Regions from separate parts of the Homo sapiens genome. Here regions 1 and 2 are each linked to region 3. Evidence: fine-mapped expression QTL. A gene starts in region 3. Each other region holds a variant in brackets. All regions are shown on one strand. Distances are from middle to middle.

Region 1 (2,751 bases), 28 kb before region 3:
TGGCAGGAGGCGGCCATCATCGGGCTCTGGGTTCCTGGTGCCTGGGCAGAGCCCTGCTGAAGGGATTCCCCCCCGGCTGCCTGCCCCTTGACTAGTGACGTGTTTTGTTTGGTGGCCTCAGCAGCTCCGGCTTGGGAGTCTGTCTGCCTGGAACCTGGCGCCAGCTCTGCCATTTGCAGCTGTGTGATTTTGGACCAGCGACATCACCACTCCCGGCCTCAGTTTTTCCATCTGTAAACTGGGGTGAGAAGAACTGGTCGTGCTATGCAGACGTGCATTTCAGAGCATGCCAATTCTGCCTCCACTCTCTCAGGCAAGGCCAGCGTCCTTCCAGTTCCCCCTGGCCCAGGCCATCTGACCGCTTCCCCGCCCCGCCGCCTCCACTGGACCCACCTGTCCCAACAACCCCGCCCCCTGGCTGCCTCTCTCACTTTCCAAACTCACTCCTGCAGCCACAGGGCCTCCGCCCTGGCTGTTCCTTTTCCCAGAAGCACTTGTCCCCTTCAGATTGGAATAGGTCCAGGGTCCCCTTAACAACCAGGCCTTGAGGCCACCACCCTCCCGGTGGCTCTGTCTTCTAGCTCAGCTTGCCTCTCCCCACCTGCCGGATTATAAATGTCCTCAGTGCCTCTTTTCTCCCACCCAGCAGGTGCCCAATACATCCCTGCTGAATGAAGGAAGGAATCGCCCACTAGGCTGTTCTCAATGGCTCCCTCCCCATCATCCCTCAGATCTAATCGGTTCTGACCTTGCTGATTCTCCTGTAACCACCTCCTCCCTTCCACATGCAGTTATGGCCCATGTTTATGACCACTGCCACCAGCCCTCATCCACCAGTCATTTACCCTCCCACAGCTGGCCACTGGCAGTGATCCTTCTGGAACGGATCTCACCACATCCTCAACCTAGCTCCACAACCTTCTATGGCTCCCCAGCGCCCACAGGCCAAAGGTCTAAAATCCAAGACCAGCACAGTGGGCCTCTCCCTATCGAGTACTGCTGTTCTCTGACTCCTATCCACTTGCACACTGGACCACCCCAATGCCAGGACAGATTGAATGGTGTGGAGGAGAGGAGTGGGGAAGGGCTGTCAGTTCTCCACGGCTTTGCCTAGAACCTCAGCCAACCCTGCAGGCTGTTGGATTTTGATGACTATTAGGCCTGACTAACCAAGGCCAAAGCTATGAATTATCAGTTTCTTTGGAGCATGTTGGCCATTTAGAAACTGGCCTCCAGGGTCTCTGGGAGAGAGATGCCCTCCTCCCTGCCCCAGATCTGTCTGTCCCAGCAGTGGCTCAGAACCCCCCGTGCTGGTACGACCTGCACCGACCTCCTGCTGGCTGCCTGCCAGTCTCAGGTGGTGGTCATGAGGAGTAGTTGTCTGGACAAGGTCACCCTGACTGTCTCCTC[C/T]CAGCCCTCTGTCTCTGCCCGGCCAGGCTGGGCTTTCTGGGCAGGGAATAGAGAATAACAGCGAAAGTTTGGCTGCCAGGTTAATTTCTTGTTTAGATAGAAGTTGGGTCCTGAGCCATGCACAGCCCCAGCTTGGCTGGTGGACAGGTTGGATAAACATGAAGCCAGTGCCTTGAATAGGGCAGGGTGGCCTGGTCAGATTTCAAACCTCAGTTGGCTCCTCTGGCAAAGGCCTGGAAAGAGATCTCAACCCACGCGCCTTTGCCTCCACCAACCCTCCCTCCTGCCCACACCTGCCTGCCCTGAAAGCCCCGAATCGTGGCCTGATGGTCAGGCACGCACAATCCCACCACGAGGCGGCTCTGAGACATGTGCTGGGAGCTGCACAGATCCAGAAACACCGACCTTTGAAATCACTCCAGGGGTCTGGCTTCCCTCCTGCTTTCCCAAGCTCTGTGCTGATTCCCTTCCTCTCAGCTGCCCCTGCCTGGGGCACGACCATCCCCTGGGCCCCTCGTTGCCCTCTCCCTTTCATTATTCTAATTATTTCTGTCACAGACAATTAGAGCCGGCTTCCACCGGGAGGAGTTTCACCAAAATGAAATTATCATCTGGATCCCCAGGGCCATCTTGCCAGTGAGCCGTTTCCAGGCGCGTGCGATACTTACAATCGTGCTCCGGGTTTTGCTGTCGAAAAAGGAATCCTTATCAGACAAGTCAAATCTGTGGAAATATCGGGAAGGAAACAAGACACAGTTCACCAGAGCTGGCAGTTCTCTGGGTTTCAAGGCCCTGGGAAACCACACTGTCCCCATTAGCCGTGACCGTGAAATGGACAGAACTCTGTCCGCACGCCAGGTATGACCCGTCCGCCCCTGGGCATTTGGAACAGACTGTTTCACTGCCCCCGCACCTGGGCGAGGCCTGAGACCCACATAGGTGGGAAGTGACCTAGGAGGCGAGTACGGTCAGACCACCCTCCAGCCCCCCACCCCCCACAGCCCCCCAGAAGATCCCTGCTTCCTTTTGATGACATCCTCAGTGGGCAGTTTTGAAAGTCTCTGTTTCAACAAGGCGGGGGACAGGGGCAGTATCACCGCCACCATCAGACAGCTCCAACCTTGAAAACAATCTCCCTGTATTTCCAATGGTTTGGGTCCTGATGGGCTGCATAGGGATGGCCCGAGGCTTCCTGAGGGTGGAGGGGCATCTTGGGAACACACTCCCTGCTCTCCCTGCTCTCCAAGGCACTTCGGGGAGAGCTGGGGAGGGCGGCTGGGCCAGTTTCCACCTCCACGGAGCCTGGAGGTGAGCTTAGCCCTGTCCAGGCAGCAGGGCTGA
Region 2 (2,751 bases), 160 kb after region 3:
GCCTGTGAGTGAAGTGAAGGAGCCCTGGGGCCGAACATAGCACTGGGACTTGGTCACCCCAAGGTGGTGGCACCTCTGGGTCCCTCTCTGCGGGGAGGAAGCATGGGAACCGGGGGGTGGGAGCCGGCCCAGGAGGCCAAGATAGAGTGGCAGGGGAGGAGGGATGCCAAGATGGCCAGCCAGGGAAGAGGGGCGTGAAAGGAGGTGGGCACAGACTCGAGGCCACTGCTCGCTCCAGGGGCTCACAGGAGTTCGCGGTGGGGCCACTCAGATGTCCTTGGCCTGACCCAGGCTGAGAGGTCCGTCCCTCAGGGCCAGGGTTTCGTGACGCCGAGTTAATCCCAGGAGCCCACTCTTCCTTAGGTTTGTAAGAACAAGGAAGTGGGGCCTGGGAGGGCCAGGCAGGCTTTCTCGGCACCCCGTTCCCCATGAACCCGGAGCTCTGTCCTTTGGGGAGCAGCCCCCGCGGGACTCCCAGGAAGGCTCGGCCGGGAGAGGCGATGCTGCCCCCTGGCGGCGGGCCTGGCCCTGTCCCGCTTAGTGGAGTGACTGCCGCGTCTCTCACATTTTCTGTTGCGCAACTTTGCAGCAAGACCCCGGCGAGCTGAAATAGACGGTGCATTATATGCGAAGCCTTCCGGGCGCGAGCTGCCTGATCCCCCGGCCTCGCCTGAGGAGGCTTCTCCATGTGCAGGGGACATTGCTACATTTCATCCCCCACTCCCTCTAAGGCAGGGGCCGTCCGGACGTTTAGAGTGAGGACCCCGTTTCTCAGACTGGTCCTGGTCGCTCTGCCCGTGGATGCCAGAATCCAGATGTGAACCCCAATCTCTCCGCCTGACCCTACAGCCCAACTCTTCACATTGTATCGAGGGCGACAGAGGCTTCCAGGGGGAAAGGCCGTGTCAAACGCCCAGCACCGCAGGGTCACCCTGCCCCTAAGGCACAGTCCCTGGTGGTCCAAGGCCCTGGGGCATCCGGAGCCCGGGCAGACGTCCTCACGGGGTGGGGGTGGGGCGTGCTGAGGGCACCCAGGAAAGGGCCTGGCGTCTGGGACGTCTGGGCTGAGTCTTGGCTCTCCGCTGGGTGGCTGTGTTCCTCTGGCCGAGCGCCGTGGCCTTGCTGAGGCTCTGGGCC[G/A]GAGAGCTAAATGCCACGGCCTACCTGGCACCAAGGCTGGCTAGACGCTCCCGCGAGGGTCAGGCTCCTGCTGCAGCCAGTGCTCCCTGCTACAACAAATCCCAGGGGCACCCACTGTGTACCAGGTCGGTGGTCAACCAAATAATGGAACCCCCCACCAGTAATGGAATCCCCCACATCTTAGTGCCCAGGACCTATGAACATGTTCCCTTCCGTGGCCAAAGACATTCTACCGATGTCACGGAGCAAGGATTCTGAGGTGGAGATGATCCCAGACGGTCGTGGGTAACCTCCAGCTTCCTGTAAGAGGGAGGCAGGAGGGAGTCACAGAAAAGATGTGACAAGAAGAAGCGGGGGGGGGGGGGAGAAAGAGAGGAATAGAGGAGAGAGGGAGAGAGAGAGAAGAGAAGGGGGAGAGAGGGAGAGAGAGGGATAGAGGAGAGAGGGAGAGAGAGGGATAGAGGAGAGAGGGAGAGAGAGGGATAGAGGAGAGAGGGAGAGAGAGAAGAGAGGGGGAAGAGAGAGAGGGAGAGAGAGAGGAGAGAGGGAGAGAGAGAGGAGAGAGGGAGAGAGAGAGAGGGAGAGAGAGAAAGAGGAGAGAGGGAGAAAGAGAAAACAGAGAGAGGGAGATAGAGAAGAGAGGCAGAGAAGAGAGAGAGGGAGAGAGAGAAGAGAGGAGAGAGAGGGAGAGAGTGAGAGGAGAGAGGGAGAGGAGAGAGGGAGAGAGAGAAGAGAGGGAGAGACGGGGGAGAGAGAGAGGGAAACGGAGAGAGAGAGGAGAGAGGGAGAGAGAAGAGAAGAGAGAAGGGGAGGGGGCCAGAGAGGGAGAGAGAGAGGAGAGAGGGAGAGAGAGAGAGAGGAGAGAGGGAGAGAGAGGGAGAGGAGAGAGGGAGAGAGAGAGAAATAGAGAGGAGAAAGGGAGAGAGAGGAGGGAGAAGAGAGTGGGAGAGAGAAGAGAAGAGAGAGAAAGAGAGGAGGGGAGAGGGGGAGAGAGAGAGAAGCGGGGGAGAAGAGAAGAGAGGGAGAGAGAGAGAGGGAGGGGAGAGGGAGAGAGAGAGAAGAGAGGGAGAGAGAGAGGGAGAGGAGAAAGAGGAGAGGGAGGGAGAGAGGGAGAGGAGAGAGAGAGGAGAGAGGGAGAGGAGAGAGAGAGAAGAGAGGGAGAGAGAAAAAGAGAGAGGGAGAGAGTGAAGAGAGAGGGAGAGAGGCAGGGCGGAGCAGGGCAGGGCCAGGGCATGGCTCAGGAGAGAGAGGGAGAGGAGAGAAGGAGAGAGAGAGAGAGAGGGAGGGGAGAGAGGGAGAGATAGAAGAGAGGGAGAGAGGGAGAGGGAGAGAGAGGAAAATCTTCCCAGGAGGGGCAGTGCTGCTGACTTTGAAGATGGAGGAAGGGGCCACAAGCCAAGGAGCACAAGCTGCCTCTGGAAGCTGGAAAAGACAAGGCTTGGGTTCTCCTAGACTCTCCAGGAGAAATGTAGCCCTGCAGACACCTTGATTCTAGACTAGTGGCATTCCTTTTTTCTTCTTTTTTTTCTTTTTCTTTTTTTGAGACAGAGTCTTGCTCTGTCACCAGGGCTGGGGTGCTGTGGTGTAATCTCAGCTCACTGCAATCTCTGCCTA
Region 3 (2,751 bases):
TGCTCCCGCTTCATTCCCTGCCTCTCTGTGAGCTCCAGAGACTAGAGGGACAGGCCAGGGCCATCCTCATCCTGCTTGAAGCAGCCCTGCTGGGCCTGACGCCTGGGGAGGGGCTTTGATGGGGTCTGCATGGGAAGAAGGTAGAAGGGAGCTTCTGTCCTTAGGTCCCACAAATTGCTGCTGAGAGCTTCCCTCACCCCAAGAGGAGATAGCCAGTCCCAGCCCTGTCCTATCCTCTTCCGGCAAACTTTGTCCTTCAAGCCAAACCCTTCCTGGGAGAATTCTGCCCCCCTCTCTAAAACATAGGGTTACCTAGACCTCTGGGTCTGGCCCTGGGGAGGGTGGTGGGGATATTGGGGACCTCAGGATGGGGTCCCCAACTTACATGACTGGCTTCCAACCAGTGCCCCCACCTGAACCAGGCCTGGGCGCCCAGGGGAGACAGGGGCGAGGGTAGAAAGCAATCTCCAATGATTGACACCCTGGGCTTTGAGAGTTTCGGTGCCAATGCCAGGGTACCAGGCCCAGTGCCCTGGGCACAATATGCGTTTCTGGCAAGTGAGGACTCGGGACTCTGGCCCCAGAGGATAGTGAAGCAGTGGGGCCTGGCAGTTACCATCATCGTGGAGTGGCGACCAACTTGGCCTTCACCCAAGACCCCCACCATCACCCTCACCCTGGCTGCCCCAACAGGTACCCCTGGCCGCGAGCCAGGAAGGGAAGGTCCCATCCAGGGCGCCAGCCGTGAGCTCTTGGTTGGGCTCCGAGCTGCAGCCCCGGGTGAGGCGGCTTCGGGGCCGCAGAGCTCCGAGGCCGGGCCATGCCTGGGGGCCCGGCGCTGCGCTGGGCGGAGTGGGCGCCGCGCTCGGAACGCTCAGAGCGCAGGCGGGGCGCACGCACTTGGCCAGGGCCGGCGCGCCCTTCCCGGCACGCACGTGCGCGGGTGGGCGCCGCGAACCCTGCGCGGAGGGTGCGGCCCCCGCCCTGGGGTCCCAGGAGGCCCTGCCGCCGCCCGGTTCCCGCCCTCGCCAAGGCGCAGGTGCGCGGCCCTCCCGCCCGGGTCGCGGCCGCCCGCACTCACCGTGCCCTCGGACGGCAGGTAGCCGATGTCCTCGATGGCGCAGATGTTGATGATGTGGACGCTGCGGTCCTCGGCCGGGAGCGTCGAGTACTTCTCGTTGACCCTCATCGTGGCCGCCTGTGCGCTGGGACCGCCGGGCGGCGCGCCCTCCCCATCCACGGCCCCGGCGGCCTCTGCGGGCGGAGACCGCAGCGTTCGCGGCGCGCTCGCAGGGGGCCGGGCCTCCCCGCGCCCAGGCCCGCCGGGGACGTGGCCGCCTCCCGCTCCGCCCGCCGCCCTGGCCCGCCCGGCCCGCGCGCTCGATGCGGGGGGCGCCTGAGCCTCTCGGGGCCGATCGCGCCGCCACCCGGCTGCTGGTCCCGCGGGCCGGCCCGCGCCTGGTCAGGAACTTGGACGCCAGCCGGCCCGCCTTTGCCTTAAAGATATAAGCGCTCTCCGCCCGCCTATGGCAGGGGCGGTGGCCGCGCCGGTCAGATTTTCCGTAGAAATTTAAACACAGGAAGAAAAAGTATTCCATTCCTGCGGGCCCCTCCAAGTTTTATTTTTATCCAGGGAAAGTGCCCCTTTGGATTTTTGAGGGTTTTCATACCGGGTGTGAAAGGGGGGAACTTTCAATAGCCCCACCTGAAATAAAGTCCCCGAGTGGCAGGCGCTTCTGTGGCGCGTCACCTCCGCCTCCGGGGGGAGTGAAGCTTCTGAGATTGGAGTCTGGATCTCTGCCCCTTTCCCTCCACCCTGGCAAACTCCTGCTGTCACTCAGCACTCACCTCCTCCGGGGAGCTTGCCTGGTTCCTGCCGACCCGCCCCCTCCAGCTGCCCGCGCTCCTGGGGGAGTCTCTCCCGGGGCAGTCATCTCCCTGGAGCCCACTGATGTTACCGGTGCCCCCGAGTTTACGGAGTGCTTAGTGTTCTGTGCCCAGGTGCGTGCAGCGTCCCTGATGTAGGGCGTGAGTGTGTATCATCTCATTTAACCCCGCACCTGCAAGGTTGGAATGCGGGTCCTCATTTTGCAGAGGACACTCAGGCTTAGGAGGGCCAAGGACCAGTCCGCATCCTCTGAGGTGGGGCGGGGCTCCTGCAGAGCTTTCCCCACTGCTGGGCAAGGCTGTCCTGCTTTCTGGAGGGGCGGAGCGGGGGGGATGGTGGCTTTGATCTCTCTTACCCCCGGACCTAGCAGGGGTCTGGCACACTGCAGATCTTCAAGTCTTCTTCCCCTAAGGAGAATAAGGCAGGTCCCCAGGGGACGACCATACTCAGGTTAAGCCCCAGGGGCCATGCTGGCCACCACATCCAGTGGAAATAAAGTGTCCCTCTGCCTCTCACATCCTATGAGTTCTTCACGGTGTGCATCAGATAGCACCTCCTGCAGGAAGTCCTGCTGGATTCTCCCCTACTGTCCCCTTCCCACCCAAATATGCAGGCCTTCCTGTCTATCCAAAGAACCTGCCTGAACCCCAACTAGCACTTCATTTATTCCGTCTCATTTTACAGTGGGTTGTCTACCAGGTTCACACAGCCGATGCTCAATAATTGCTTGTTAAATGGCCACTGGGGAACATTCAAGGCCTACAGAAGTGATTAGAAAATTGTCTTTAAAGGCCACGATGTCGTCAGCGTGCCATGGTTCCAAGCATGGAACCTGGAGTCAGCTAGGATAGGGTTGGAGAGAA

Direction of the effects. Alleles are on the strand shown, and positions count from the first base shown. SD is a standard deviation of normalised expression in the study named.
For the expression in thyroid of the gene that starts at base 1,479 in region 3, C is the high allele of the variant in region 1 and T is the other (small effect, 0.26 SD a copy in GTEx).
For the expression in tibial artery of the gene that starts at base 1,479 in region 3, allele G in region 2 goes with a lower level than allele A (small effect, 0.28 SD a copy in GTEx).

Evidence for each region.
Region 1: its variant is fine-mapped to the expression of ANO1 in thyroid (GTEx, PIP above 0.99).
Region 2: its variant is fine-mapped to the expression of ANO1 in tibial artery (GTEx, PIP above 0.99).

Annotation. Positions count from the first base shown.
Region 1 is chr11:70,105,116-70,107,866 of GRCh38, reverse strand. ANO1 (anoctamin 1) reads right to left here. Exons shown (of 26, transcript NM_018043.7): 5 at 2,079-2,133. Among named protein-coding and RNA genes, the nearest start is that of ANO1, 28 kb to the right of the region's middle. The variant C/T (reference allele first, on the strand shown) is at 1,411.
Region 2 is chr11:69,916,771-69,919,521 of GRCh38, reverse strand. No RefSeq gene overlaps it. Among named protein-coding and RNA genes, the nearest start is that of FGF3, 99 kb to the right of the region's middle. The variant G/A (reference allele first, on the strand shown) is at 1,138.
Region 3 is chr11:70,077,045-70,079,795 of GRCh38, reverse strand. It overlaps ANO1 (anoctamin 1), which reads right to left and starts at 1,479. Exons shown (of 26, transcript NM_018043.7): 1 at 1,082-1,479. The coding sequence starts at 1,189.